Regions from separate parts of the Homo sapiens genome. Here region 2 is linked to region 1. The links come from fine-mapping of genetic effects on gene expression. A gene starts in region 1. The other region holds a variant in brackets. All regions are shown on one strand. Distances are from middle to middle. Region 1 holds the start of SLC20A1-DT (SLC20A1 divergent transcript). Region 2 overlaps LOC124907869 (a long non-coding RNA gene).

Region 1 (16,244 bases):
TTTTTTTTTTTTAGACAGAGGAGTCTCATTTTGTCTCCCAGGCTGGAGTGCAATGATGTGATCTCAGCTCACTGCAACTTCCATTTCCCAGGTTCAAGAGATTTTCATGCCTCAGCTTCCTGGGTAGTTGGGATTACAGGCATGCTCGGCTAATTTTTTTTTTTTTTTGATACCGAGTTTCGCTCTCGTTACCCAGGCTAGAGTGCAATGGTGTGGTCTTGGCTCAATGCAACCTCTGCCTCCCGAGTTCAAGCAATTCTCCTGCCTCAGACTCCCTGAGTAGCTGAGATTACAGGCATGCTCCACTATGTCTGGCTAATTTTTCGTATTTTTAGTAGAGACGGGGTTTCTCCATGTTGGCCAGACTGGTCTTGAACTACTGACCTCAGGTGATCCACTCGCCTCGGCCTCCCAAAGTGCTGGGATTACAGGCATGAGCCACTGCACCCAGCGAGCATGTATTATTTTTATAATAATTTTTAAAAATCTTGAGCTCCTCTTGCCCTAAACTATTTCCCCTATTAGTCTGGTTGTTTCGGTGCCCATATATTATGAAATAATCAGAATACAAGTCTGATAAATATGAATTCTAGTGGGGACAATGGAATAGGGTATTTGCAATTGAAGTCACTGCATGAAGTACTCTCTCCCTTGTCCCTTTCTCTCCCTTCTCTGGCCTGAATGTCCCATCCCTATCCCCATACCTGTAAGTCACTCCTCTGGCTTAAATGGGGAGTTAACACAGGGTGGTGGGAAGTATAGTAGACTTGGAGTCTCTCACGCATTGCCTGCCAGGGCCCACCGTGCAGGACTCCAGGCCCTACTCTAAAACTTGCTACTTGCCCGACTGCAGGCTCTCAGACCCTCATTTCCCTGTGATAGGGTAAAAAAAATACTTGCTCTGCCTACATCACACAGATGTGAAGATAAAATGAAACAATGCCTTTGAAGGTATCTGGAAACAGGAGAGTGAGTCCTATATATATCTATATATATGTGTGTGTGTGTGTGTGTGTGTGTGTGTATATATATATATATATACACATATATGGTTTTTATAAATCAGCGTTAACATTTGATTTTATAACCATCATTAAAAAGGGAGAGGTAAATGGGTGGAGAGGGAGGAGTGAAAAAACAAAATAAAAGGTAGAGGCAGTATTCAAGGTCACAGTTAAAAATTTCATATTCCCTGCAGGTGGTAGGTGCTGAATGGTTGAATAAATGAACAGTCCTAAAATGGATATATTTTGGGGCAACAGTAAGTTGCCCCCAGGAAGAAAATCACTTTTGGAAAATAAAACTGGCAAGAATCTATGCTAAATGGATGAGACCAGCCACAGAAGCACTTCATCCTAAAAGATGGTAAAGGTGGTGTATACAAAATTAGGCCGGGTGCAGTGGGTTATGGCTGTAATCTCAGCACTTTGGGAGGCCTAGGTGGGTGGATTGCTTGAGCCCTGGAGTTCGAGACCAGCCTGGGCAACATGGTGAAACCCAGTCTCTACAAAAAATACAAAAATTAGCCATTCGTGGTGGGATGCAACTGTAGTACCAGGTACTGGGGAGGCAGAGGAAGGAGGATCACCTGAACCTGGGAGGTCAAGGCTCCAGCGAGCTGAGATTGCACCACTGTACTCCAACCTGGGCAACAGAGTGAGGCCTTGTGACAAAAAAACAAAACAAAACAAAACAAAAAACCCAACCAACTTGGGTTGGGCAGGGTGGCTCACGCCTGTAATCTGAAAACCTTGGGAGGCCGAGGCGGGTGGATCACTTGAGGTCAGGAGTTTGAGACCAGCCTGGACAACATGGTGAAACCCTGTCTCTACTAAAATTACAAAAATTAGCTGGGCATGGTGGCAGGAGCCTGTAGTCCCAGCTACTCAGGAGGCTGAGGTGGCAGAATTGCTTGAACCCAGGAGGCAAGGGTTGCATTGAGCTGAGATTGTGCCATTGCACTCCAGCCTGGATGATGGAGCAATACTCCGTCTCAAAAAATTAATAAACAAATAAAAACAAAATAACAAAACTGGGGGATACCCAAACCCAATTAATATTCAAATAAATGCTTGTTAAATGCCAGGGATAGTGCTATGCATTTTACTTATTTAAGTCTCATAACAACCCTATTATTTCCACTTTACAGAGGAATGGGAGGCACAGAGAAGTTAAGCAATTTGCCCAACCTCATAGCATGTAAATGGTCGACAAGATTCTAATTTCTAATAGTCTGGCCCCAGGTCCCATGTGCTAAACTATCCCTTACCTAGAACAGTAGGAATGCTTGCTCAGAAAAACAGGACTTAAAATAGAAAAAAGTGGTGTTTTTTGAACATCTGACTGAAACGGAATGTGTTAACATATTGTTTCTAAACTTACCAGGTAGCAAGAGTCATTCTTGTGATTGCTTCCCAAACTGCAGCATGCTTATGAATCATATGGGGATCTTGTTAGAATGCAGATTCTCATTCAGCAGGTCTGGGGTGGAGTGAAGGCTCTAGGCAGAGGGCTAGAGGGTCCCATCATTGGAGATAGACTTCCCCACGGAAAATGAAGAAACTGGGTTCTGCTCAGAACCTCAGTCTCCCATGAGGCAGTTCCCAATAGCAGAAGCCTCTCTTTGAGTGCCCCAAACACCTGAATTTCTGGACCAGGAAAGCAGAGGTACAGCCCCAGGCCCTACTCCCTCCCTGAAAACTCAGCTTTTTGTGCCCAGCAAGCTCTGAGGTGGGGGGTCTTGTTGGGAAGCTTTCTCTTGCTGAAGGGATCAGACAAGTGAGGGGCACTGACCCTGGAAGAGGAATGCTGGGGAGCAAGAGCCTCGGCAGTGGTGGAGTGGACTGTGCAGTGAGTGGCCTGGCACAGTCTCCTGTGCTCTGGTCTGTAGAGAGAGCGAATGATAAATAAGGATGTACTGGAAGATGAGGTGTGTGGTTCATGTCCAGAAGTGGCAGGTCTGTTGGGGGAAGGGAGAGATTGACTTTGCCTCTTTGGCTGTTGTATTCATGGCCAGTCCTCAGTGTGAAACTCAATGCAAGAAGGGGTTTGTGGCCCATAAAAGCATGGGCTGGTCAATCTTGTTGATCCACTAGATCCATAGCAGGCTATTTGTTGACTGAACAGACGAATGAATGAAAGGCTAGGGAAGCCATACAAAGCCAGATGCTGTTACCCTCCACCTCCTCCTGGGATGACTTTGGGGATGACTCACGTCCTGCTGCCCCCTCACTTTCTCAGCCTAAAACCACACATCCTGGACTGTGCGGGCAGCGAGCTGACCCTTCCTTTTCTGCTGTAGGATCTTCATTACACAAAGTTCCTGAGTTTCCAGCAAGTTGCCTTTCTTCCCTGTTTAAGAGCTGAGAAAACTGGGCCTTGGGGAAAGCGAGAAGTCCCAGTTTAAGTCACCAGAGACGTCTTCCTAAAGAAGTATTCAGGATGCTGTGCTATCCAGAAGCTGGCTCCAGAGACACCTGGACCATTTCAAGCTCTAAGAACTGTGCTTCTGTTCCCTCTGCCTGGCTCCTATGCCATATCACACCCACATGTGTGAACTCAAAGCCAAAGGGAAGAGACCAGGCCATGTGCAGCCAGGACAGAGGCATGTAAAATCTAGAGAGGGTGGGCCAACCTCCCATACTCCTGTGTTGGCGGAGAAATAGACCCACCAGTTTGTCTGGCACAACCAAAACTCAGCTTTCTTGCCATGGGATGCTGGCCTGAGACCAGTCACAACCAGTCTCAACCAGTCTCCATATCAGGGCTTGGCTGTCTGGGTGCTTTCAAGCACCCTTCCCCCACCTGGATCCCAAGCATCCCTTGGACTCTGCCAGGACAGAGCCACAGATGCCGGGGGAAATGGGAAATGACTGGAGACACAGAGGACAGCCACATTCAAAGCTGGTGGGAAAGTGGTGGTGGTGACATGTGGCCCTTGCCTGAAACATTATTTTGAATTTATTTCCTGTAGGAATTGACTACAGGTGGGTTTTGTCTTGCAAGATAGGTTTCCTTTCTTGAGAAATCTCAAGAGAACAGAGTTTTCAGTAACTCTAAGACACGGTTAGGCCACTGCAACAACTTTATTTCTGGAGAGAACATGTGCTCTGGCTTCCTGCCTCTTCCTACTCTGGGGAAACTGGGGCCAATCTCGAAGACTGATCTCCTAGAAATGTCCTTTTTTATTCCAACAGGGTTTGATGCAGCTCAAAATACAGGCTGTAAAAGCAACAGAGTTAATAAAAAGGAGGGGGAAAGAAGGAGGAAGTAAATGTGTTAAGTGCAAATAAGAGTTGGCACCTAGGGCAATCATACTTGCCTCAGTACTTGCTGGCATCCTGGGAAAAGGCACTTACAATCTTGAAATTTGTTAGGTTCTTCGCAGCTTTAACTGCCGCTTCCTTCTCTGTGCCTCCGTTTCTCTGTCTATAAAGTAAGGGGAAAATACCTCATCTGAGATTTATTGAGAGCATCACCTGAGATAATCCATGCAGAGCACCTGAAATAGTACCTGGCACACAGTAAGCATTCAACTGCATCACAGATATTATTATTATTATTATTTTGAGATGGAGTTTTGCTCTTGTTGCCCAGGCTGGAGTGCAATGGCACGATCTTGGCTCACCGCAATCTCCGCCTCCCGGGTTCAAGTGATTCTCCTGCCTCAGCCTCCCAAGTAGCTGGGATTACAGCCATGCACCACCGTGCCCAACTAATTTTTGTATTTTTAGTAGAGACAGGGTTTCTCCATGTTGATAGGCTGGTCTCGAACTCCCGTCCTCAGGTGATCCACCCGCCTTGGCCTCCCAAAATGCTGGGATTACAAGCTTGAGCCACCATGTCCAGCTACAGGTATTATTATTACCTCATTCATCTGGGGATGGGGAGGGCATTGGTGGGTGGAGAGGAGCTGGTTCTCCTTTACTCCAAGGCTCCTACCTTCTCTTCCCTGGATGTTCTCGCCCCTGCTCCCATGCAAGTCCTCACAGACGGCCTCTGAAGCCGCCTTTGTTCCTGGTCTGGTTCCACAACGTTCCCATGCCCACTTGAGCTCCCTCTACTCCAAGTAGACTATTTCCAGGATGAGTACTTCAAGTACATCGAACAGTGACCTCAAATGCATTTCCTTGACTGTGCCTCTCTGAACTAAAAAGTGCAGAAATGTCATTGCTTCCTTCTTTTGTCTGGTCTTCCACAGGGCTAGGTTGGGATCCGGGGGGAGAGTAGCTTTCCTAGCTCTCAGCAGCTCAACTCCACCGAATTAGTGAACGATGGACATGTCCCCAAGAGGACTCTAAACCCACAGTCCCCAACATGGTGTTCTGCAGCATGCCACAGGTCATCTTGTTCTGTCCTCTCTGAGGGTGAGGTTGGAGAGGGACCCTAGGCTCACAGGCTCAGTGACAGTGACTCACCAAAGATCCTGTGGGCAGTCAGGGTCTGGGCCAGGCCAGTGAGCCCATTCATATGGCATGAGCCACAACACTGTTCCTCTTCCTCCGGCAGCAGCCCGTTTTGCGTGTCCCCTCACTATGAGCCGTGGGAGAAATTTGAAAGGGCTTGGATCAGAGGGCAGGGAGAAGAGGGTGGTCCTGACATCTGACACATACTTCATTTTAAACATGGGCTATGTATGACAGGCCTTCAGCTAGTTATTGAACAAAGAGAATAAGAGCCCTTTTACAAGGGCTTTACATATATTCATTCATTTGGTCCTCACAACAGCACTGTGAGTTAGAAGTCTCAATCTCACCCCTTTACAGATCAGGAAACTGAGGCAGATAATTTATTTGCCTATGGTCACAGGACTAGTGAGTGACAGAGCAGGTGGTTTGGTCTTACAGTCTATGTGTTTAACCACTACACCAAACCACCTCCCTAAGATGCTAGAGGGGGTTTGTGCCAATGCCTGGATTCTAAGAGATTAGATTCTCTTTAGGATCTCTGACCTGTTTCCTCAGCATTCAGAGATAAGGCCAGAAACAATGCCATTTGTGCACGAACTGACAACTGACGGTCCTCCTACCTCCTATTTCTATTTAAAAGGCACTGTAACTTCTTTCCACAGGCAGATCCCTACCTCTCCTCCCTTAGGGGAGGACGAAGGTGTCCCAGCCAAGGAAGATCCTGGTCTCCAAGGGCTGTACCCTACTGATCCGGAGGCAAAGCAGTGAGGGCCCACCCCAATTCCTCACCTCCCATTCTACTCTTCGGCAGAAGCATCTCAGTGTTGGAAAGATAAGGATTTCTTCCTAAAAAGGAAGGATTACACTATATCAGAGTCTGAAGATACAGTTTTCATTTGCAACGCAAGGGAATTCCTTTGAATCTCTACCTTATGATTTCCCTGCAAACCCACTCCGATGGGGCTGGAGAGTGCTCTCTCACTCAGATGAATCTCTCAGGGGTTGTCCAGCAGGTGTTTGCCAACTTGAAGAGCTACCTACTATCACAGACCTATAAAAGTACGCCTGTGGACAGACTGAAAACAAACAAACAAAACACACACACAAACACACAAAACAACCGCACACTGGGAGAAGTTCTAGGCAATTTCCTTGCAAATAACTGCTTTGAAAATTACTGTTTTAAATTGGCAGAACACTAAGGACTTTGAACAGATCATCCCTTTTACTCAATGTTTTCATAACCTTGAAGTGAAGGTGGAGGGAGCAGTACGTTTTAAGGTGCCAGGATTACACTACGGGGTCAGTGCTCCCGGATATGAACTTTCTTTTTCAGACCGACCTTGGGACCTACAGCTTTGTAAGTTACTCATACAACTCCATCAAATGTTACAGGTAGGTCAGAGGACATTCAGGTTGTTTAAGCCTCTATAAATGACTCAGGCAGCAACAATTTACAACGTCTTTGTTTCTGCTATGCAGTGCCCTCCTGCTAGAGATGGCAAAAATGTGGGGAGGGCTTCAGAGCATTCTAAGCCTGGTATTTCTGGCTGGAATTTTTAAATCTCACTACAATCCTGACAAGAGACCACGACCTTAATCTCCCACGGCATGACTGGTTAGTCTTGATCGTAAGCCATATAATCAACACCCAAATGTGCATAACACATCTAAATAATGTCAAAACTACACTATATACCACGCAGGGGACCAGAAATCAATCTTTACCTCAAAAGGATAAGCTTCCAGGATGCAATAACATCCCCTTCCACCCTTTTCTACACCCTAAAACAGTAATATTCACGGTAACAGCAAAGCGGAAATCAGCTTTTCCTGAACATGTACTGAATTCTAGTCACATTCACACACGTTAATTCATTTAATTCCAGCCACAAGGTAGGCAGCCTCTGTTAACATTTTACAATTGTGAGAACGCAGAGATCTGGGACTGGCTCAAGGTGACACACTGCAGCAAGGAGTCAGAATTTGAATCCGAAGCAGTGTCCTTCCCCCTCGCAACAGCTGCGGCGTTACAAACACAGGTCAGCCACGGAGAAATTAATGACCCACAGCCATCCTTGCAGCTCTGCGCCATAACTGGGGAGACAAGCTGGTTCCCGTGACTCTTCAGTCTGTTTTCACCCAAGTGCATGACTGCGGGAGCAAAGCGACCACGTGAGCATCCCCCCCCCACCCCCCCGCTTCCCCCAGGCGAGGGACAGTGCCAGGCCAAGGACAAGTCACAGGTGCAACAACGTGCCAGAACTGGATCCGGAGCCCCAGGGCGCAAGATCTCCCGCAGCGTCACCCGGCAGAGGGACGGGTGTGGCCACCGGGCGCGGCAGGTCCTGCGTGCGCTGAAAGTGCGGCTGGAGGCGCGGACGGCTTTCCGGAGCCCCGAGAGAGGAGCTAGGAATGACTTTGGTCGCAGCCTCTGTAACCCCGCATGACGGCCTCTAGGGGGACAGCGAGGTCCCCCTCGATCTCTGGCTGTAATCAGCCGGCGGGGCCAGACGGTGCCGAGACTCCAGGGCGAGGCCGCAGGGAGGGGGCTGTCCCGCCCCACGTGGACCGGCTCCCCGCTGGGGGCGTGGCCGCCGAAGCGGGCCGGGCCAATGAGCGCCACCGTCGGGCTCACCCGGCTGGGCACGCCGGGCCGAGGAGGGCTGCGTCATGCCGGGGGCGGGGCTTCGGGGCCGGCGCGAGGCGCGGCGGGGTCACGCGGGTCGCTGCGCGGGCTATAAGTAGGGGCCGGCGGGGTGCTCCGCTGGAGTGATGGCTGCCGGCGCTCTCTGCGTGGTTCTTCTTCTCGGCCGCTGAAACCCCCGCGGCTGCTTCCTGGGAAGGTCGTGAGTCCCGCTGAGCTGTCCCCGGTGCCGCCGACCCGGGCCGTGTGCCCGTGGCTCCAGCCGCTGTCGCCTCGATCTCCTCGTCTCCCGCTCCGCCCTCCCTTTTCCCTGGTGAGTAGTGGCGCCGCCTCGTAAAGGCTCTTTCTTCTCCCCGGGGCCGGGCGCGGACGCCGTGGCGCTGGAGGCGGACGCCGTGGGCGGCGCGGCTGGCTTCTCTCTTCGCCGCTGGCCGCCTCCACTCCGCCCGTCTGCCCGCCCGCGGGCCTTTTTGGCGGTCCCCGGGCGGCGCGCGCGGGAACGGCCCTTTTCCGATTTTCGCGCGGAGGGCGCGCGCGGGCTGGCAGCGCAGGGGCTGGGCTGGGCGCGCGCGGGCCGCGGAGGACCCGGAGCCACGTGCCTCTCCTTCTCGCGCGTCCTACTGGGGATGGGGGTCTGGAGTAGCCGGCAGAGGCTATTGCGGGACCCCGGGCGCGTGGGTAGAGCGGGGTGCCCCACTGGCCCCCCAGGGGCACGCAGCTATTGTTATTTCCCCCCTCCCCCGCAGGATGAACTTGCGTCCTTTCTCTTCTCCGCCATGGAATTCTGCTCCGTGCTTTTAGCCCTCCTGAGCCAAAGAAACCCCAGACAACAGATGCCCATACGCAGCGTATAGCAGTAACTCCCCAGCTCGGTTTCTGTGCCGTAGTTTACAGTATTTAATTTTATATAATATATATTATTTATTATAGCATTTTTGATACCTCATATTCTGTTTACACATCTTGAAAGGCGCTCAGTAGTTCTCTTACTAAACAACCACTACTCCAGAGAATGGCAACGCTGATTACCAGTACTACAGCTGCTACCGCCGCTTCTGGTCCTTTGGTGGACTACCTATGGATGCTCATCCTGGGCTTCATTATTGCATTTGTCTTGGCATTCTCCGTGGGAGCCAATGATGTAGCAAATTCTTTTGGTACAGCTGTGGGCTCAGGTGTAGTGACCCTGAAGCAAGCCTGCATCCTAGCTAGCATCTTTGAAACAGTGGGCTCTGTCTTACTGGGGGCCAAAGTGAGCGAAACCATCCGGAAGGGCTTGATTGACGTGGAGATGTACAACTCGACTCAAGGGCTGCTGATGGCCGGCTCAGTCAGTGCTATGTTTGGTAAGTTCTTTTTATGTTTTGTCCTCTTCGTGGTGGGTGAGCAAATTTGTATCATGGGTGGTTCCATTTTTGTGCATAACCTTTCCGATTAACCTTTCTGAATGTGCCACTTACATAATGGAATTTTGATATTTACTTAATAAAACTTTACTATGTTTCAGGTTCTGCTGTGTGGCAACTCGTGGCTTCGTTTTTGAAGCTCCCTATTTCTGGAACCCATTGTATTGTTGGTGCAACTATTGGTTTCTCCCTCGTGGCAAAGGGGCAGGAGGGTGTCAAGTGGTCTGAACTGATAAAAATTGGTATGTTTAATTCCAAACGGCTTCTTAATTTTCGTTTTCGTCATATGTTACCATGGCATTAGGTATGGGAGGATGTGTTCTAACGTCGAGGGACAGACCCAAGAATTTTGAACTCTTAAACATTTAAAGTGGTTTTTGGTTTCTGATTTTCATTATTTGATATTTTTTCTTAATGTGTTCTATTCCAGTGATGTCTTGGTTCGTGTCCCCACTGCTTTCTGGAATTATGTCTGGAATTTTATTCTTCCTGGTTCGTGCATTCATCCTCCATAAGGTAACCTTTCTCCCCCGTATGAAGACCTTTCATGGAGCACACCCAATCGATTTCAAACCCAGTGGTACTTTTGCAGATGTGATTGGTGTATAGGTATGCGGCCTTGGAAAATTTTAAAAAGCTCTTTGTTCTGTGCATTTCTTGTATGTTGTGGAGTTCTCTGAAAGCGAGTTTTTAATACTCAAGAGGGCAGTCAGGAAGGAAAAATTGAATACTATGATGTGCCAAGAAGTAGGAGAAACTGGGAGCAAAAAAATAAGGAAATTTATTTTGCGTGGTTTTGTGTAGCTGTATACACATTATTTGTTTAAACCACTGTTATATTCAGGCTAATATAATACGTAAACTTGGAGTTCAAGACAGTGTCCCCTGTGGCTTTTTTAACTAAGCTGCCAGTTAAATGGGTCTCTGCCGTGCTGATTATCATAACCAGTTTATAAGCTTCTAGATGAGGACTCTGCCTCCCATAGTGACTTGACTCCAATTTCTCAGAATAGTTGAAAAGAACCAGTTAAAGGTAGTTTTTGGCCCGCCCCCCAAAAAAACTTCAGGCAGCCATTTAATTTCCTGTCCATTTGAAAATCCCTTTTAAGTGACCCAGTTTGCATTTCTTTTATCAAGAAGTCTTGCTGGCTGCAAAATAAATGTTGACAAGGGATTATGTTGGCATAGGACTGAGTTACAGTGAGGATAAATGCATTTTTCTCAGGAAACAAAGTTGTCCTTTTTCTAAGGTGAATGGCTCTTAACAATCCATTGTAAGTTCTTAAAAGTGTTCCTAAACTGTAGAAATCTGAGGGAGATAGCATAAATCCCAGCAGGTAAGAATGTATTCAGACCCACTTGTCTGGTCTAGTTGTAAGCTTCTCTAGGGAAAGATTTGTCTCTTCTCTGTAGAAATTCTATGACTAGTAAAGTGATTCACTAATCACTGTTTTCCATAGCCAGAATCTGGCAGAATATAGCAGTTTAACACTTTGAAAACTTGAAATATCTTTAGCCTGGTATAATATGAGAGTAAACAGTTCATTGATATTTATGGACTCCTAAGTTTGGTACTGTTTTATTCAGCAGACAGGTACGATAAGCATCTACCTTCCCACTCCCTACAACTGTAGTGTATGATACTGGGATGCTTAAATTAGAGGCTCACCAGTAGTCATGGACCAGATTTTTTTGTTTTTTTTAGAGTTTTCATTAGAACTGTATATCTTGCTACTTAGCAGAGAGTCAGAAGCATTAGTAGGATCTCCTGTTGTGAATTCCTGCTTGGTAAAGGTTTATGCTGGCCCTGTGTTGATTATTGAGTAGCAGATCATTTTGTTTTTGGAGAGGGTTTGTGTGTTTCACCTCCACAAAACACTTATTCCCCGGAAGGGGAATGGTGGTGCTCTGAGGTGCAAAGAGGGATTCTCAGGTGCCCAGAACCTCTCATTTGAGGAATGCATACCCCCACGGTGTTATTGAGGGCTGAAGTTAGATACGGTAACTGATTTCTTAATTGTATATTTCCTATATGGGTATGGGAATGGGCATGATCAAATGATGAAGAATGATTGGCATAGTGTTTAAAACAATATTGACTTTGAGGATCTTCCCCCACTCTGTGCACGTGCACACACACACTCTTGCAGGCCAATCCCTCAGTAACAGGAGTTTTCAGTTGAGTATGAATATTTCTGCTTCCTTTTAGGAGTTAAATTTCAAGAAAATATCCTTAGACTGGTAAGCTTTTGGTATCTTAACTGCTAAAATCTGAATATTTGACCATTAAGATATATTCCAACTCTTAAATGTCTATCTTGAAAATTAAGATTAACATGACCTTTTTTTTTAATTTCAAAAAATTGCTTTTAAACATTTTCTATTCTCTGAATGTTTGTTCCAAGCATGTTGGGGATAGGTGGGAACAGACAGAATGGAGGTGAGGTACTTCTATTTAGGACTGGCATCGCACAGAAGGAATATGCTTCAGTGCTCCTGTTGAGTATTTTTAAATTCTAGTCAAAGAAAATAGGGCTTTTGGCATTCTCATTAGTTAGAAATATATTTAGGATGTCTTCCCTTTTCTTTAGACAAAACCAGAATATCCAATATGTAAAAGTGAACTATTCTGGTGAAGATGGGGGGTTTTGTGAAGACCTTTCCTGTCCCACATGACTAGACGATGAGGCATTCACATTATTTCCAGGTGAAGTTTTACTTGTGTGTTAGGTGGATCTCTACAATGATGAGACCTTTCTTGTTTTACCTTCTTCCTAGACTCTCTGGAACTTTTGATTTTTTTTTAACCATGAACCTGTATTTCACAATAAACTATTGGTATAGTAGTGTCATTCATACCCTACCCCATCCCCAACAACTTTGCGTAGAGAATACCTCAGATTTGTTTACCTCAGGGAATACTTAATTGGGCTATGCTATACAGGATAATAAATACACAGGCTGCTACTTCAGACTAGTCAATTACAATTTGATTTATGGATAATCATATTACGAAATATCTTTGAAAATCTATTGAGAAGTCCCCACATAATGTCTTTAAAACCCAGGAAATTTTTGGGGGTGGGAGTCTTGGGTTGGGTTTTTTGGAGCCTTTTTTTTTTTTTTTTGAGACGGAGTCTCACTCTGTTGCCCAGGCTGGAATGCAGTGGCACGATCTGGGCTTACTGCAACCTCCGCCTCTCGGGCTCAAGCAATTCTCCTGCCTCAGCCTCCTGAGTAGCTGGGATTACAGGCGCCACCACACCCGGCTAGTATTTTTGTATTTTTGGTAGAGACGGGGTTTCACCACGTTGGTCAAGCTGGTCTTGAACTCCTGACCTCAGGTGCTCTGTCCGTCTTGGCCTCCCAAAGTGCTGGGATTACAGGCTTGAGCCACTGCACCTGGCTTTTTTTTTTTCTTAAGCGAAGTCTCGCCTGTCACCCAGGCTGGAGTACGGTGACTTAATTGTAGCTCACTGCAGCCTTGACCTCCCAGGCTCAAGTGATCCTCCTGCCTCAGCCTCCAGAGTAGCTGGGACTATGGGTGTGTGCCACCACATCTGGCTAACTTTTTATATTTTATAGAGGTGGAGTCTTGCTCTGTTGCTTAAGTTGGTCTTGAACTTCTGGGCTCAAGCCATCCCCTGCCTCATCCTCCCAAAGTGCTAGGATTACAGACAGACATGAGCCACCACCACACCTGACCTGCATTTTCTTAAGACTAGTCTTTAGAATAAAAATACACACCTTAGTTTCCTAATCTTGTTGACTGCCCTCAGAGTTTGACCACCGTTGAGTTAGTTATTCAAGGATGCTTAACAGTTCTTGATTTCTGTATGCTATTGTTTTTGTTTTGGCTATTTCACTATCTGTTAACATTCTCTATTAAACTATAGATAAGAGTTAAATTTTAGAGTGGTTTTCAATGAGTGCTCATCTCTGCTAATTTGAAATGGTACCTTTACTTTACACATGGGTCTGAGCTTTCCCTTGTTTCACTGGTCTTAAGCTACTAACTTTCCAGTGTATTGATTATTGTTGGAAGCTGTAGGGTTTTACTTTCTGTTTTTCCTCCCCAAGATTTTCCACTGGAATTGTGATCAAGATAACATTAAACCTTTTAGGCTAAGGTCTTTATAAAGTTTTTAGCCTTCCCATATATGTATTCAGATCTTTGCTCCCAATTTTTTTTTTTTTCTGAGATGGAGTCTTACTCTGTTGCCCAGGCTGGAGTGAGGTGGCCCAGTCTCCACTGACTGCAACCTCTGTCTCCCAGGTTCAAGTGATTCTCCTGAGTCAGCCTCCAGAGTAGCTGGGACTACAGATGCTTGCCACCACATCCGGGCTAATTTTTTTGGTATTTTTAGTAGAGACAGGGTTTCACCGTATTACCCAGGATGGTCTCGATCTCCTGACCTCATGATTGTCCTGCCTCGGCCTCCCAAAGTGCTGGGATTACAGGTGTGAGCCACCGCGCCCAGCCTCCTCCCATTCTTTCGGTGTTTGACTTGGGTGTTCTCCTATAGAATTAATACATACTAGGTATGGTAGAATTCTTATTTTTAGTCACTGGCCTTACTGTTCCTTAAACATTTCAAGTTTTTGCCTTAGGGCCTTTGCATTTGCTGATATCTCTGTCTGGAACATTCAGCGCCCAAATAATCAGGTGGTTTGCCCCTTCTGTACCCATAGTTAATGTACACAGCTTGCTAGCTTACTACATTTATGTCATGCTTATTCCTTGACCCTCCCCACCCAAATGGTGCCCCCCCTTCCATCACTCTCCTCTTACCCTTCTTTATTTCTCTTCACAGCATTTGTCAGTACTTTACATTATTCCATACTAGAAGGTGAGTGTCAGTTCTATTAGAACAGGAACTTGGTCTTATTCCCTCCTATATTTCGGTGCCCAGAATAGCACTTGGCACACAGTCTTTTGAGTGAGTGGATGACCTTGTGCACAATCAGTTATTATCATTGAACTTCGGTAAAGCATTAATTGTGGCATCTTTGTCAGATGTTTAGATAAGATGGTTGGCGTACGCATAGTCTGCATGTTGTATTTTTAGTCTTTGAAGATATGAAGTCAGGTAAGCAACATCCTAACATAGTCTATTTCTTGACATCTCTTACAAACGTAGAGTATAGCCTATCCTCAGGTGTGTGCTGAAGTTTATATTAGGGCTTTTGGGTACCTTAGAATGTGGGTATTGCAATCTTTATTCAGGATGTTATCAGTCACTGGTACAGTTAGTCTTGTTATTAAAAGAAAAAAGAAAAAAAAACAGGTAGAAGTTGGAATTAGCCTTCGTAGGAAGAATTCCAGATGCAAATGCAGGAAAAACTCTGTTGTCCTTGGAAACTACTCTGGAGAGAGTTATTGGCACTATAATTCCCAAACCTACCCTGTTAAAAGATTCTGTGGAAATGGGTTAACCTTTATACCTTTTAAGATATTGATCTTAATGATGTTTTACAGGCAGATCCAGTTCCTAATGGTTTGCGAGCTTTGCCAGTTTTCTATGCCTGCACAGTTGGAATAAACCTCTTTTCCATCATGTATACTGGAGCACCGTGTAAGTACCTATCAAAATATTTAAATGTGAATTTAAAGTTGTTTACAAAACTTGCATTAAATGCCCAATTTACCCCTTTTTGCTTTACAGGGCTGAAATCTCCTAGAAGGTGGCTGGCCTGCGCCCATTTCAGAAGGCTGCAGGCTAGTGTACGCTGAGTTAACCTAGATAGTTTTTCAACCAAAGAGACCTGCTCAGATTCTAAATCACTACAGACCTTTCCTCTTTAGTCTTCACAGGATCCACTGATAATATGATCATCTCCTTCCCTTTCTCCTGTCTATGCTAAAAATGCTGGAATTAATACTGACCTCAACTACTGAAGTCATTAGTTATATCTGATCTTCAGTAATCAGTCATTTAGGACTGGTTTGCTGGATATTCTCATTTTTCTCTCCCAAATGGAGATACTATTGTTTCTAAGTACTAAACTTCCATGAATCTGCTTGAATGAGAAGAGTTGGGATGTTTACCACCTGCTCTAAGTGCACTTGGAAGAAGAAATTCATGCAGCTAAGAGGAAAAATAATTTGTGAGAATATAAAGGTTGAAATGTTGATGACTTTCATGTTTGGGACTAAGGCAAGGCATGGATTAAATTATGGCGCTACAAGTTTAATTTAGCAACAACAAAAGATTGGTAACTTGTAACTGGCAGGACAGTACAGTTTTGGTATCTAGACTCATTTGGCCTGATGGTCTGTGACTACATAGGCAGTGACTTTTATTCTTTATACTGTGACCCACTGGATGAAATACAGGACACACATGTATGTATGTAGAGAGAAAGATAACTGGAATAGTGTCATGAAGCCACTTAATGCTTACTATGTGCTATGCACCCATATTTTCAAATTCTCTCTTTTTTTTTTTCTTAACATTTGTTGTGGCCCACTGAAATGATTTCAGTTTTGAGTAATGGGTTGTGACTTGCTCTTAAACCTCACTGAAGTAGTAAGTTGCTGACCCAAAGTAGAGTTAGCTAAATATTTTTATTATTTATTTATTTTTTTGAGACAGTTTTGCTCTTGTTGCCCAGGCTGGAGTGCAATGGCATGATCTTGGCTCACCACAACCTCTACCTCCCGGGTTCAAGCAATTCTCCTGCTTCAGCCTCCCAAGTAACTGGGATTACAGGCGTGCACCACCAAGCCCGGCTGATTTTGTATTTTTAGTAGAGACGGGGTTTCTCCATGTTGGTCAGGCT
Region 2 (16,244 bases), 28 kb before region 1:
TTTCACTGTGTTAGCCAGGATGGTCTGGATCTCCTGACCTCGTGATCCACCCACCTCGGCCTCCCAAAGTGCTGGGATTACAGGCTTGAGCCACCGTGCCCGGCCTGTTTCCTGACTTTTTAATGATCGCCATTCTAACTGGCATGAGATGGTATCTCATTGTGGTTTTGATTTGCATTTCTCTAATGACCAGTGACGATGAGCATTTTTTCATGTCTGTTGGCTGCATAAATGTCTTCTTTTTAGAAGTGTCTGTTCATACCCTTTGCCCATTTTTTGATGGGGTTGTTTGCTTTTTTCTTGTAAATTTGTTTAAGTTTTTTGTAGATTCTGGATATTAGCCCTTTGTCAGATAGATAGATTGCAAAATTTTTCTCCCATTCTGTAGGTTGCCTGTTCACTCTGATGGTAGTTTCTTTTGCTGTGCAGAAGCTCTTTGGTTTAATTAGATCACATTTGTCAATTTTGCCTTTTGTTGCCATTGCTTTTGGTGTTTTAGGCATGAAGTCTTTGCCCATGCCTATGTCCTGAATGGTATTGCTCAGGTTTTCTTCTAGGATTTTTATGGTCCTAGGTCTTACATTTAAGTCTTTGATCCATCTTGAATTGATTTTTGTAAAAGGTGTAAGGAAGAGGTCCAGTTTCAGTTTTCTGCATATGGCTAGCCAGTTCTCCCAACACCATTTATTAAATAGGGAATCTTTTTCCTATTGCTTGTGTGTGTCAGGTTTGTCAAAGATCAGATGGTTGTAGCTGTGTGGTGTTATTTCTGAGGCCTCTGTTCTGTTCCATTGGTCTATATCTCTGTTTTGGTACCAGTACCATGCTGTTTTGGTTACTGTAGCCTTGTAGTATAGTTTGAAGTCAGGTAGCATGATGCTTCCAGTTTTGTTCTTCTTGCCCAGGATTGTCTTGGCTATGCAGGCTCTTTTTTGGTTCTATATGAAGTTTAAAGTAGTTTTTTCCAATTCTGTGAAGAAAGTCTGTGGTAGCTTGATGGGGATAGCATTGAATCTATAAATTACTTTGGGAAGTATGGCCATTTTCACGATATTGATTCTTCCCATCCATGAGCATGGAATGTTTTCCCATTTGTTTTTGTCCTCTCTTATTTCCTTGAGCAGTGGTTTGTAGTTCTCCTTGAGGAGGTCCTTCACATCCCTTGTAGGTTGGATTCCTAGGTATTTTATTCTCTTAGTAGCAATTGTGAATGGGAGTTCACTCATTATTTGGCTTTCTGTTTGTCTGTTATTGGTTTATAGGAATGCTTGTGATTTTTGCACATTGATTTTGTATCCTGAGACTTTGCTGAAGTTGCTTATCAGCTTAAGGAGGTTTTGGGCTGAGACAATGGGGTTTTCTAAATTTACAATCATGTCATCTGCAAAGAGAGACAATTTGACTTCCTCTCTTCTTATTTGAATACCATTTATTGCTTTCTCTTGCCTGATTGCCCTGGCCAGAACTTCCAATATTATGTTGAATAGGAGTGGTGAGAGATGGCATCCTTGTCTTGTGCCGGTTTTCAAAGGAATGCTTTCAGTTTTTGCCCATTCAGTATGATATTTGCTGTGGGCTTGTTATAAATAGCTCTTATTATTTTGAGATATGTTCCACCGATACCTAGTTTATTAGAGTTTTTAGCATGAAGGGGTGTTGAATTTTATCAAAGGCCTTTTCTGCATCTATTGAGATAATCATGTGTCTTTTGTCTTTGGTTCTGTTTATATGATGGATTACGTTTATTGATTTGCGTATGTTGAACCAGGGTTGCATCCCAGGGATGAAGCCAACTTGATCATGGTGGATAAGCTTTTAGATGTGCTGCTGGATTCAGTTTGCCAGTATTTTATGAGGATTTTTGCATCGATGTTCATCAGGGATATTGGCCTGAAATTTTTTTTTGTTGTGTCTCTGCCAGGTTTTGGTATCAGGATGATGCTGGCCTCATCAAATGAGTTAGGGAGGATTCCCTCTTTTTCTATTGTTTGGAATAGTTTCAGAAGGCATGGTACCAGATCCTCTTTGTACCTCTGGTAGAATTCGGCTGTGAATTCATCTGGTCCTAGACTTTTTTTGGTTGGTAGGCTATCAATTACTGCCTCAATTTCAGAACTTGTTACTGGTCTATTCAGAGATTCGACTTCTTACTGGCTTAGACTTGGGAGGGTGTATGTGCCCAGAAATTTATCCATTTCTTCTAGATTTTCTAGGTTATTTGCATAGAGGTGTTTATAGTATTCTCTGATAGTAGTTTGTACTGCTGTAGGATCAGTGGTGATATCCCCTATATCATTTTTTATTGCGACTACTTGATTCTTCTCTCTTTTCTTCTTTATTAGTCTGGCTAGCAGTCTATCTATTTTGTTGATTTTTTCAAAAAACCAGCTCCTGGATTCATTGATTTTTCGAAGGGATTTTCATGTCTCTATCTCCTTCAGCTCTGCTCTCTTAGTTATTTCATGTCTTCTGCTAAGTTTTGAATGTGTTTGCTGTTGCTTCTCTAGTCCTTTTAATTTTGATGTTAGGGTGTCAATTTTAGATCTTTCCTGCTTTCTCTTGTGGGCATTTAGTGCTATAAATTTCCCTCTAAACACTGCTTTAAATGTGTCCCAGATATTCTGGTACATTGTGTCTCTATTCTCATTGGTTTCAAAGAACATCTTTATTTCTGCCTTCATTTCGTTATTTACCCAGTAGTCATTCAGCAGCAAGTTGTTCAGTTTCCATGTAGTTGTGCAGTTTTGAGTGAGTTTCTTAATCCTGAGTTCTAATTTGATTGCACTGTGGTCTGAGAGACTGTTTGTTATGATTTCTGGTCTTTTGCGTTTGCTGAGGAGTATTTTACTTCCAATTATGTGGTCGGTTTTAGAATAAGTGTGATGAGGTGCTGAGAAGAATATATATTCTGTTGATTTGGGGTGGAGAGTTCTGTAGAGGTCTATTAGGTCTGCTTGGTCCAGAGCTGAGTTCAAGTCCTGAATATCCTTGTTAATTTTCTGTTTCATTGATCTAATATTAACAATGGGGTGTTAAAGTCTCCCACTATTATTGTATGGGAGTCTAAGTCTCTTTGTAGGTCTCTAAGAACTTGCTTTATGAATCTAGGTGCTTCTGTATTGAGTGCATATATATTTAGGATAGTTAGCTCTTCTTGCTGCATTGTTCCCTTTACCATTATATAATGCCCTTCTTTGTCTCTTTTGATCTTTGTTGGTTTAAAGTCCGTTTCATCAGAGATTAGGATTGCAACTCCTGCTTTTTTTTGCTTGGTAAATATTCCTCCATCCTTTTATTTTGAGCCTGTGTGTGTCTTTGCATGTGAGATGGGTCTCCTGAATACAGCACACTCATGGTTCTTGACTCTTTACCCAATTTGCCAGTCTGTGTTTCTAATTGGGGCATTTAGCCCATTTACATTTAAGGTTAATATTGTTTTTGTTTTGTTTTGTTTTTGTTTTTGAGATGGAGTCTCACTCTGTTGCCCAGGCTGGAGTGCAATGGCACCATCTCAGCTCACTCAACCTCCGCCCCCTGGGTTCAAGCAATTCTCCTGCCTCAGCCTCCCGAGTATTACAGGCACCTGCCACCAGGCCTGGCTAATTTTTTTATTTTATTAGAGATGGGGTTTCACCATGTTGGTCAGGCTGGTCTCGAACTCCTGATCTTGTGATCCGCCTGCCTTGGACTCCCAAAGTGCTGGGATTACAGGCATGAGCCACCATGCCCAACCCAAGGTTAATATTGTTATGTGTGAATTTGATCCTGTCATTATGATGCTAGCTAGTTGTTTTGCCCGTTAATGCAGTTTCTTCATAGTGTCGATGTTTTTTACACTTGATATGTTTTTGCAGTGGCTGGTACTCATTGTTCCTTTCCATGTTTAGTGCCTCTTTCAGGAGCTCTTGTAAGGCAGGTCTGGTGGTAACAAAATCCCTCAGCATTTGCTTGTCTGTAAAGGATTTTATTTCTCCTTCACTTATGGAGCTTAGTTTGGCTGGATATGAAATTCTGGGTTGAAAATTCTTTCTTTAAGAACGTTGAATATTGGCCCCTACTCTCTTCTGGCTTGTAGGGTTTCTGCCGAGAGATCTGCTGTTAGTCTGATGGGCTTCCCTTTGTGGGTAACCCGACCTTTCTCTCTGGCTGCCCTTAACATTTTTCCTTCATTTCAACCTTGGTGAATCTGACAATTATGTGTCTTGGGGTTGCTCTTCTCAAGGAGTATCTTTGTGGTGTTCTTTGTATTTCCTGAATTTGAATGTTGGCCTGTCTTGCTAGGTTGGGGAAGTTCTGGATAATATCCTGCAGAGTGTTTTCTAACTTGGTTTCATTCTCCCTGTCACTTTCAGGTACATCAATCAAACGTAGATTTGGTCTTTTCACATAGTCCCATATTTCTTGGAGGCTTTGTTCATTCCTTTTTATTCTTTTTTCTCTACTCTTGTCTTCTCTATTTCATTAAGTTGATCTTCAATCGCTGATATCCTTTCTTCCACTTGATTGATTTGGCTGTTGATACTTGTGTATTCTTCACGAAGTTCTCATGCTGTGTTTTTCAGCTCCATCAGGTCATTTATGTTCTTCTCTACATTGGTTATTCTAGTTAGCAATTTGACTAACCTTTTTTCAAGGTTCTTAGCTTCCTTGCATTGGGTTAGAACATGTTCCTCTAGCTCGGAGTTGTTTGTTATTACCCTCCTTCTGACGCCTACTTCTGTCAGTTCGTCAAACTCATTCTCTGTCCAGTTTTGTTCCCTTGCTGGCGAGGAGTTGCGATCTTTTGGAGGAGGAGAGGCGTTCTGGTTTTGGATTTTTCAGCCTTTTTCCACTGGTTTTTCCCCATCTTTGTGGATTTATCTACCTTTGGTCTTTGATGTTGGTAACCTTCGGATGGGGTCTTTGAGTGGACGTGCTAATCCTTTCTGTTTGTTTCTTTTTCTTCTAACAGGCCCCTCTGCTGCCAGTCTGCTGGTGTTTGCTGGAGGTCCCCTCCTGACCCTGTTTTCCTGGGTATCACCAGTGGAGGCTGCAAAGCAGCAAAGATTGCTGCTTGTTCTTTCCTCTGGAAGCTTCGACCCAGCAGGGAACCTGCCAGATGCCAGCCAGAGCTCTTCTGTATGAGGTGTCTGTCAGCCCCAACTGGGAGGTGTCTCCCAGTCAGTATACACAGGGGTCAGGGATCCACTTGAGGAGGCAGTCTGGCCCTTAGCAGGCTCGCATGCTGTGTTGGGAGATCCGCTGCTGTCTTCAGAGCCATCAGGCAGGGACGTTTAAGTCTGCTACAAGCCTGACTGGGCTGCTGCCTTTTTTACAGAGATGCCCTGTCCAGGGAGGAGCAATCTCGCAGTCTGAACACGGCAGCCTTGCTGAGCTGCAATGGGCTCCACCCAGTTTGAACTTCCCAGCAGCTTTGCTTACACTGTGGTGGTAAAACCGCCTGCTCAAGCCTCAGCAACGGCGGACGCCCCTCCCCCTACCAAGCGCCACCGTCCCAGGTGGATCTCAGATTGCTGCTGTGCTGGAAGCGAGAATTTCAAACCAGTGGATCTTACTTTCCTGGGCTCCATGGGGGTGGGAACCGCCGAGCCAGACCACTTGGCTCCCTGGCTTCAGGCCCCCTTTCCAGGGGAGTGAACAGTTCTGTCTCGCTGGCGTTCCAGGTGCCACTGGGATATGGAAAAATAAAATAAAATAAAAGCTCCTGCAGCTAGTTCAGTGTCTGCCCAGTTGGCCGCCCAGTTTTGTGCTTGAAACCCAGGGCCCTGGTGGGGTAGTCACCAGAGGGAATCTCCTGGTTTGCAGGTTGTGAAGACCATGGAACAAGTGCAGTATATGTGCCCAAGTTCCTCAGGCTGAGACCCTCACAGCTTCCCTTGGGTCAGGGGGAAAATTTCCCGATTCCTTGCGCTTCCCAGGTGAGGTGACACCCCACCCTGCTTCCGCTCAGCCTCTGTGGGCTGCACCCACTGTCCAACCTGCCCCGGTGAGATGAACCAGGTACCTCAGTTGGAAATGCAGAAATCACCCACCGTCTGCATCGATCTCGCTGGGACCTGCAGACTGGTGCTGTTCCTATTCGGCCATCTTGAACCTCTCTCCTGATCCCTGAGTTTTCAGAGAGACTGATTTGAGTAATAATAAAACTCTGGTCTCCTGCTCAGCCAGCTCTGCATGAATTACTTTTTCTCCATGTAATTCCCCTGTCTTGAAAAATGGGCTTTGTCTAGGCAGGGGGCAAAGTGAACCCACTGGGCGGTTACAATCTCACCGTGTTTCAGGAGCCTCGGGTGTTCTTGCACAAGGGGAGTCAGACTGTGGTTGAGCCTTGTCTACATGGCCTAAGTGAAGACATGCAGGGTTGCCAGGGCACTGTGGAGTTGGCACTCCATACCACCATGCTGGACCTTCCACATACCCCGCTGATAATTCTTCTGGATATTGTTTTTTTTTTTTTTTTTTTTGAGATGGTGTCTCACTCTGTTGCCCAAGGCTGGAGTGCAGTGGCACAATCTCGGCCCACTGCAACCTCTGCCTCCGGGTTAAAGCAATTCTCATGCCTCAGCCTCCTGAGTAGCTGTGACCACAGGTATGTGGTACCACACCTGGCTATTTTTTGTATTTTTAGTAGAGACAGGGTTTCACT[A/C]TATTGGCCAGGCTGGCCTTGAACTCCTGGCCTCAAGTGATCCACCCACCTCGGCCTCCCAAAGTGCTGCAATTACAGGCATGAGCCACTGTGCTGAGCCTGGGAATTCTTTTTTTTTTTTTTTTGAGATGAGGTCTCACTGTGTTGCCCAGGCTGGAGTGCAGTGGCACAATCTTGGCTTACTGCAACCTCTGCCTCTTGGGTTTAAGTGATCCTCCCTCCTCAGCCTACCAAGTAGCTGTGACCACAGGTGTGCACCACCACACCTGGTAATTTTTGAATTTTTGGTAGAGGTGGAGTTTCACCTTGTTGCTCAGGCTGGTTTCAAACTCCTGAGCTCAAGTGATTTGCCCACTTGGGCCTCCCAAAGTGCTGATATTACATGTGTGAACCACCATGCCTGGCCTGGAAATTCTCCATCACTTACCTTAGATGTACTGGTAGAAGGTTGGACCAAATCCTTTTCCTTAGGCAACATTAAATGAGAGTAACCATGATGATGACTCCCAGGAGGACAATTAGGCCTGCTTGGAAAAAGATAGGCTGCAATCAGACTTCCCATCCAGAGCCAAGCCAGTTAGGTATGTCATTAATTCAGATGTCCTACTTGGCTGGCTGGCAGAAAATCCAGGGCAATGTGATCATCCATTACCGCTCACACTTGATAGCCCAAACTAGGTGCGTGGTAGGCAATTATATGCCTGATATCCACCATAAGAAGTGCTATTCATTTGGGGCAAAACTGTAAGAGTATAAGTCTCCGGCTATCGTAGCCCAACCTAGTCTCAATGCTACGTCCTGCTCAGGGCGAATTAGATTCTGCTAATAGGTTTGGGTGACCACAGCAGCAGCACAGTGCTGACGTGACGTCAAGGTCCAATTCTCACAAGACTGGAGGCTGGGATTAACAATATAAAGGAAATTTAAGTATCAGAAAGAGCCTGAAAGAAGGAATAGTTCCTGGAAGAATACTTCCAAAGTACTCAAAGGAGGAGATTTTTTTTTTTTTTTGAGATGAAGTCTTGCTCTATCCCCCAGGCGGAGTGCTTTGGCACGAACTAGGCTCACTGCAACCTCCGCCTCCTGAGTTCAAGCAATTCTCCTGCCTCAGCCTCCTAAGTAGCTGGGATTACAGGCACATGTCACCATATCTGATTAATTTTTCATATTTTTGGTAGAGGCGGGGTTTCACCATGTTGGCCAGGCTGGTCTCGAACCCCTGATCTCAAGTGATCGACCTGCCTCAGCCTCCCAAAGTGCTAGAATTACAGGCATGAGCCATCGAGCCCAGGCAGGAGGAGCTATTAAAAGTTTGTCAGCAGGGTCAGGAGGGGTAAGACAGATTGAGCAACACAAGGAAGTTTTGTTATTTTTTTTAGGTAGTGGAAGGGGACCAGAGATACCAGCAATAATAGGATAGGAGAAAGCAGGAAAGAAACCTAAGTGTCCAGAAAATTATCTTTTTTCTGATGTCTTGGGCAGAAGTTCTCCACTTCTAAAGTTGGAGGTCCTCGATTTAAGGTCTCTCGATAGAATGGGAGTAGTAGTTAGACTGAGGGCAGTGGTGATAGCCTGGACAACATGACAAAAAGATTCTGAGATGACAGGCCAAGCCAGGTGTTCTGCAGGCAAGAGCCAAGAGAGATCTAGAGTGTTCCTTCACCACCATCCTGGGCTTTTGATGTTTTTTCATGGCCATGAGATAGGTATAGCTAGTCCCTGCAGTCCTCACTCAGTCTAATACACACCATATGGCTGAGTTTATTCCTAAGCAGTGCAGCTTTGTGTGTGTGTGCGTGTGTGTGTTTGCAACTTGTGCCATCTAGAACATCTTCCACTCCCTCACATAGTGTGCCATGCCGGGACCACTTTGGGAGTCGTCACTTCATACTCATGATCAATATCATCAGTATCTATAATTGCCCAGATCCAGGAAGCATAACTGGACAGTAAAAGCAGCATCAGGTTAGGCTGGGCATGGTGGCTTATACCTGTATTCCCAGCATTTTGGGAGGCCGAGGCAGGTGGATCACGAGGTCAGGAGATCAAGACCATCCTGGCTAACATGGAGAAACCCCGTCTCTACCAAAAATACCTAAAATTTAGCCGGGTATGGTGGCAAACGCCTATAGTCCCAGCTACAGTCCCAGCTACTCGGAGGCTGAGGCAGGAGAATCTCTAGAACCAGGAAGGCGGAGGTTGCAGTGAGCCAAGATTGTGCCACTGCACTCCAGCCTGGGCGACAGAGCAAGACCCCGTGTCAAAAAAAAAAAAAAAAAAATGCTGGGCGCTGTGGCTCACACCTGTAATACCAGCACTTTGGGAGGCCAAGGTGGGTGGATCACCTGAGGTCAGGAGTTTGTGACCAGCCCGGCCGATATGGTGAAACCCCGTCTCTACTAAAAATACAAAAATTAGCCGGGCGTGGTGGTGGGCGCCTGTAGTCTCAGCTACTCAGGAGGCTGAGGCAGGAGAATTGCTTGAACCCAGGAGGCGGAGGTTGCAGTGAGCTGAGATTGCGCCACTGCACTCCAGCCTGGCGACAGAGTGAGATTCCGTCTCAAAAAAAAAAAAAAAAGAAAAAAGCAGCATAGTTTGGTTTCCCCAGGGGTGAGCGTGGGAGGGAAAGGAGGAATGAAGAAGGAGAGTATATTGTGTTGGTTTGGGTCTCTTACAGACAGTCTGGGCCTCCTCCCCGACTCCTCAAACTCACACAGATTCTATTTAAAAAGGAAGTTCCCTTTTGGGGTATTGGCACATTTAGAATCCATATTGTCTGTTTTAAGTGTGTACTCTACTGAGAATTGAGCTTTGGTTCTCTATGTACCCTTTTTAGCTTCTCCTTTAAGCATCCATCTCTCTCTCTCTCTTTTTTTTTTTTTTTTTTTTTTTTGACACCGGGTCCCATTCTGTCGCCCAGGCTGGAATGCAGTGGTTCAATCACGGCTTACCCTGCAGCCTCAACCTCCTGGGCCCAGGTGATCCTCTCACCTCAGCCTTCCCAGTAGCTGAGACCACAGGGGTGTACCACCACACCCGGATAATTTTTTGTATTTTATGTAGAGACAGAGTTTCACCATGTTGCCCAGGCTGGTCTCAAGCGATCCACCTGCCTCAGCCTCCCAAAGTATTGGGGATACAGGTGTGGGCCATGGCGCCCAGCCTCATTCCATCCTTTTATGGCATCTATTGCCTGTGGGTGATGAGGGTCCTGAGATGTCCTGGCAATGTCCAAGGTGGTTGGCCAGTGTTGGGTACTCTTGACTATAAATGCGCATCATTTGATGAGATACATTCAGGGAATCTCAGTATGTAACACAGGTCATCTGCGAGTCCCTAAATTTATGTTACATCTACCTCCTATCTGTGGTAAGGACCTACATTGCCATGCCATACCCAGAAAGGTGCCTACTGTAGGAAATGCTTAATTGCATCCCCAAGTGGAGCATTTAGGAGGTTATGTAGCCTATTTGCCAGGACTGGCCAGAATCTGGTGTCCTGAGTTTATATGTGCCCTGGAGTTTTCTTTGCCCCTTGACTGACAGGCTCATTTACCAGACTTCGGTGGCTTCCTGTGCTGGAGTCATTCATCTTTGCTTTGGGTCCCAGTCCTGCACTGTAGACAGAATGTCGTGGCCTCTGTGATGATGTATTCAGTTGTCCTTACCTGGAAGGCACAAGTCTGATTGGGTTTTGAATTCCACTCATGCTATTTCTATGGACATCCACATCCATAAAACAGAGGGCAGTGGTGTAGTATTAATAAAATCTGAGGCTGGGTGCGGTGGCTCATGCCTGTAATCCCAGCATGGGAGGCTGAGGCGGTGGATCACTTGAGGTCAGGAGTTCGAAACCAGCCTGGTCAACATGGCAAAAATCTCATCTCTAATAAAAAAAAAAAAAAATAGCCAGGCATGGTGGATCACCTGAGGTCAGGAGTTCAAGACCAGCCTGGTCAACATGGCAAAACCCCGTCTCTACTAAAAATACAAAAAAAAAAAAAAATTAGCCAGGCACGGTGGTGCAAGCCTATAATCCCAGTTACTTGGGAGGCTGAGGCAACAGAATCACTTGAACCTGGGAAATGGAGGCTGCAGTGAGCTGAGATCGTACCACTGCACTCCAGCCTGGGCAACAGAGGGAGACTCCATCTCAGAAAAAAAAAAAAAAGTCTGATACCATAATGTTCACTGCCATAGGGATTGAGACTTGATCATTTAGTCTTGCTTCCAGGCACAGGCCCGCACTGCCAGCCCATTGGCTACCGTCTCTAAATCAATGAAAAAGCAGCAAGGAGCATTTTGGAGGGGTTTTTCAGGAAAACCACCACTGTCCCCAACTCTGTCCACTGGGTAGTACCTTTTTTTTGTGTGCAAAATTTTAAACAGCTTTTGTTTTCCCCTGTGGCTGCACAGCTGCAAGGGCCAAGAACAATCCGCCAGCCTGTAACTTAGCGGGCTCCATCTGTGAACCAGCTTCAGGCATCCTCAGGGACTTGGTGTATCAATGCCTCCATGAAGCTGGAGGTGCTGGCACAAAATGTTCCTCTGGGATCAAGGGATGTCTGGCCATCTTGTAATGCCATTATGTGACTCTTTTGATGCCTGATGACCCCATTCTACAGAGTAGCCAGTCACTGGCACTTGTAGCTGAAAAGGATCATTAGAGCTAACTGGCCTGAGCAGAGTGCAGTCTGTACAGTCTGCCGGACACTGCTTTTTTTTTTTTTTTTTTAAGATGGAGTCTCACTCTGATGCCAGGCTGGAGTGCAGGGACTTGATCTTGGCTCACTGCAACCTCCACCTCCCGGGTTCAAGCGATTCTCCTGCCTCAGCCTCCCGAGTAGCTGGGACTACAGGCACACGCCACAATGCCCAGCTAATTTTTGTATTTTTAATAGAGATGAGGTTTCACCATGTGGCCCAGGATGATCTTGATCTCTTGACCTCGTGATCTGCCCGCCTCGGCCTCCCAAAGTGCTGCGATTACAGGCATGAGCCACTGTGCCTGGCCTGGACACTGTTCTTAAGCACGCTGGACCCTGCCAGCTCTTTTCCTCAGTGCAGTGGTCTTTTCCCCGCCTGTACTGCTTCACCCACACCACATGGCTGGGCTCAGGGAGCCCAGTGGGTCCTGGATGTGCTCTCATCCCACTAATGCTGTTCTCACTGTAGCATTTTTCCAAAGGCAACATCACTTGCCATTATGGACAGAAGTATTACATATCCTTAGAACAGGCTGTGTGTCCCTACACTGGGAAGGGTGCATGACCTTGGGTAAGACTGTTCCTGTGGGCCAAGGACATTCTTGGAAGAGGTTTCACCTGTGAATCATTAGCAGTCCATACTCTAGCAGCTCATGGAATCACTGCTTAGGTCCTGATGGGAAATTCTGAGAGGTATCCAAAGGTTCACTACACATTGTAAAGTCGTAGATGTGGAGCCCACACTGCCACCATAATTAAGGCTGCGGCAGGTCTTTCCACTACCTTCTGTGAAGCTGCCTGCTGCTAGGAGATGTGGCATGTAGTAAGCAGGAACTCCATAGCCATGGCCCATAGCTTAACATCTTTTATCATGAAAACATGCCCATGGACAAATAATTTGTATGTAAGACATCATTGCAATTGAATAAGCATTTGTAAATCTATGAATATATGGTGCTGGAGGAAGTGCTGTGGGCGGGATAAGCAAACCCATGAATATGTTTGTGTTAATCCACCTTCATTCTCCACCAACATTTGCCTCTTGCACTGACCAAATAGGTGAGGTAATAATGGTGTTATGGAAATCAGTAGCCCTGCATCTTTCAAATCTTTATGGAACTAATTTCTGCAATGTCATCAGGCACAGAATTGTTTTTTTTTTAACAACTGGTAATCAATTTATTAAAATAGTTGACTTAAGCATCTGCAATGGTAACTTCCACCTCAACTCCTGGCTCAATACTGATGGAAGTAATCTGCTTAACAATCTCAGAAGGACTGTGCAAGTCAATGAGTCGCTTGTGAATTCTCATCTGGAAATGATCCCAGGTCTTAGAATCTTCACCACAAGTAGTTTTTCTTGTAGTGATTCTCAAAGTCTTGGCAGGCATTCGAACTGGTCCTTTCACTTTGAGATTCTTTTCCTTTGCGCCTCTGATTAAGTCATCACACACCTTTTCCAGGGATTTTACATTGCGGCTTGTTAGGGTGATTCGAATTTGGTGAATGGCCACCTCCGGCTCCACGGGTGTTTTCCGGTATCCTTAAAAGCCAAGGCTGCTGCGCGGCTTCCTGACCGACTTGTTCCTCGGCGAGAGTGAACAGCGGTAAGTCAGGAGCAGGAGCGTCTGAACGAGAAATCCTCAGCACCTACGACCGCGTCTTCCTCCACAGAATTGTTTTTAGGTTATTATCTTGGTTGTAGGTGGCCCTTTCAAGGATTCTAACTGGGCATTCCCACCATGACAGACCGCATTCCTCGGATAAGGACAGCAAGGCTGGCAAAATAGCCACACGGTGTGCCTGGGATCCTACCTGACCCACTGTGAGGTGGACTCTGGCCAAGACCTGTCTATCCCCTGACCTCCCTAAGCCTCTCTCCAATTGACCATAGAGATTCCAGGGATTAGGCTCAGATAATACCAGTATCTACACATGTGGCTTCCAGTAAAATGAGCACAGACTGAGATTACAGAACCCAATTCCTGGCCCTCTCTGCTGCTAAATATCTATCAGGAAAGATCCTCCCTGAGCTTGCTTACTCATCTGTAAGTTGGAGCCAAAAATGTTCTTTGGATCGTGTGTCATTTGTGCAGATGTGATAAGATTACACACGTCAAGTGCTTTACACATTGCCTAATAAGTACCATTCACCGTTTCTTCTGCAGAGTGTAAAGAGGAAGATAAATTATCTATTACTATTTAGCAGTATTTTAATAACTTTTATGCACTTTTAATTTATTTCCAAATTTTTTCTTTTCTTTTTTTTTTCTTTTCTTTTCTTTTTTTTTTTTTTTTTTTTCAGTAGAGACAGAGACTCTCTTTGCTGCCCAGGATGGAATGCAGTGGCAGTCATAGCTCACTGAAGGCTTGAACCTCTGGGCTCAAGTGATTTTCCTGCCTCAGCTTTCTGAGTAGCTGGGACTATAAGCATGCACCACCATGCCTTACTATTTCTTTTCTCTTTTCTTTTCTTTTTTTTTTTTTTTTTTTTGAGACGGAGTCTCGCTCTGTCACCCAGGCTGGAGTGCGGTGGCTTGATCTCGGCTCACTGCAACCTCCACTTCCCAGGTCCAAGTGATTCTCCTGCCTCAACCTCCCAAGCAGCTGGGACTACAGGCGTGTGCCACCATGCTCAGCTAATTTTTGTATTTTTAGTATATTGGTCAGGCTGGTCTTGAACTCCTGACCTCGTAATCCACCCACCTTTGCCTCCCAAAGTACTGGGATTACAGGGTGAGGCACCACGCCCAGCCACCTGGCTATTTCTTAAAAAAAATTTGTAGAGATGGGGTCTTGATATGTTGCCTAGGCTCAAATTTTGTCATCTTTTAGATAACAGGATTTGGGGCTGGGTGCAGTGGTTCACACCTGTAATCCCAGCACTTGGGGAGGCCTAGGTGGGCAGATCATGAGGTCAGGAGTTCGAGACCAGCCTGGCCAATATGGTGAAACTCTATCTCTACTAAAAATGCAAAAATTAGCCGGGCATGATGGCGGGCGCCTGTAATCCCAGCTACTCAAAAGGCTGAGGTGCGAGGAGAATTGCTTGAACCCGGGAGGCAGAGGTTGCAGTGAGCTGAGATTGTGCCATTGCACTCCAGCCTGGGCGACAGAGCGAGACTCTGACTCAAAAAAAAAAAACCAAAAAAAATTTAAAAAAAAATTAAAAAACAAAACAAAACAGGATTTAGGGATAAGAATTTAGGACTAAGTCAATTTTCTATGAATATTCTTACATGTCAAATTTCGAAGGCCCAGACTCAAATGACTTGATTCTTATTTTCAAATAATTGGGCTGTAAGATTTATCTGTTACTTCTTAACATATAATTTGTACACCTGTCTAGGATTTAACTTGGAAAAGATTTTTCAAAACTTGGTACGATTATATAAAATGTGTGCTTATGACCATAGCTGGTAGGCATGTGAGATGGTAAGGCATTTCCGCAGAGCAGAGGTTCATAAAAGCTTTATCATGCATCAGAGCTATCCGGAAGGCTTTTTAAAACACAGATTGCTCAGCTGGGCGCAGTAGGGTGCGCCTGTAGTCCTAGCTACTTGGGAGGCTGAGGCAGAAGGATCTTTTGAGCCCTGGAGTTTGAGGCTACAGCATGCTATGATTGTGCCTGTGAATAGCCACTGCACTCCAGCCTGGGCGGCCTAGCAAGACCCTGTCTCTAAAACAATAACATCAACTAAAACAAAAACCACGCAGATTGCTGGACCCCAACCTAGAGTTTCTGATCCAGTAGTATTGGGGTGGGGCCTGAGAATTTGCATTTCTGACAAGTCCCCAGATGATGTTGATCCTTATTCTCCTGGCCCATAGACCACTTAATTAAAGCCAGCAAAGTAGTCATCAACGTTGACCCAGGATATAAGCTGAAGATGATGAACAGCCTTGAGGCAGTAAGGGAGGCCTGCCCTCCAACATCAGGAAGCCAAGTGAAGGCGTGACTCACCAGGGCAGGGTGGGGTTCCTGCGTGTGAGAAACCAGAATTGAGAGCTGCACCAGCTGTGTGGCCCCAGGTTTCTCAGGGTGAGGAGAGGCAGCCCAGGGGAAAGGCACTCGGGACCACACCCCAACTCACCTACCCTGTGTAAGTTTTTTCCATTGCATGTATCAACATCTAACATGTCATATATTTGATTTACCTCATTTATTCTCTGACTCCTTGCCTCCTGTTAGAATATAGGTTCTCTAGAACAAGGATTTTTATATGTTTTATAGAAGAACAGTAACTGAATCATAGCAGGTGTTCAAATACTGACTGAATGCATGCCTATATACATATAACTATGTTCATGATACTGTTTCTAGAAGGATCCACAAGAAAATGGCAGCAGACTGTCTCTGGGCAAGGGAAATGGAGGAATGGGTGGGGCAACTAAAACTTTTTACTGACTCTATAGCTCTTTGAATTTTTCCTTTTTTTTTTTTTTTTTTTGAGATGGAGTCTTGCTGTGTCACCCAGGCTGGAGTGCACTGGCGCAATCTTGGCTCACTGCAACCTCTGCCTCCGGGGTTCAAGCAATTCTCCTGTCTCAGCCTCCCGAGTAGCTGAGATTACAGGCATGCATCACCATGCCCGGCTCATTTTTGTATTTTTAGTAGGGACAGGGCGGGAGTGGGGGAGGGTTTCACCATGTTGGCCATGTTGGCCAGGCTGGTCTTGAACTCTTGACCTTGTGATCCACCCGACTCAGCCTCCCAAAGTGCTGGGATTACAGGTGTGAGCCACAGCGCCCAGCCGAATTTTTCCTATGTATCTCATCTAGCTAATCAAAAACAGATCTCTATTGTTGATTAGGAAATATAAATTGGAAGAGAAATAGGTATAATAGGAAAAACCTGAGGGAGCCCCATTCCCCCTCCCCAAATCTGGTGAG

Evidence for each region.
Region 2: its variant is fine-mapped to the expression of SLC20A1-DT in whole blood (TOPMed, PIP above 0.99).

What each region holds. Positions count from the first base shown.
Region 1 is chr2:112,637,762-112,654,005 of GRCh38, forward strand. SLC20A1-DT (SLC20A1 divergent transcript) reads right to left here and starts at 6,419. Exons shown (of 5, transcript NR_033871.1): 1 at 6,338-6,419; 2 at 6,198-6,254; 3 at 5,418-5,532; 4 at 4,322-4,428; 5 at 4,069-4,221. SLC20A1 (solute carrier family 20 member 1) reads left to right here and starts at 8,178. Exons shown (of 11, transcript NM_005415.5): 1 at 8,178-8,368; 2 at 8,802-9,401; 3 at 9,563-9,703; 4 at 9,892-9,977; 5 at 14,941-15,037. The coding sequence starts at 9,068. LOC107985934 (a long non-coding RNA gene) reads left to right here. Exons shown (of 2, transcript XR_001739642.2): 2 at 1,199-2,085. RefSeq lists enhancers at 2,672-3,871, 3,111-3,405, 4,001-5,200 and silencers at 7,840-8,669, 9,131-9,425.
Region 2 is chr2:112,609,262-112,625,505 of GRCh38, forward strand. LOC124907869 (a long non-coding RNA gene) reads left to right here. Exons shown (of 2, transcript XR_007087193.1): 2 at 4,952-6,163. It also overlaps the pseudogene RPS20P11. Among named protein-coding and RNA genes, the nearest start is that of SLC20A1-DT, 27 kb to the right of the region's middle. RefSeq lists an enhancer at 15,219-15,358. The variant A/C (reference allele first, on the strand shown) is at 6,647.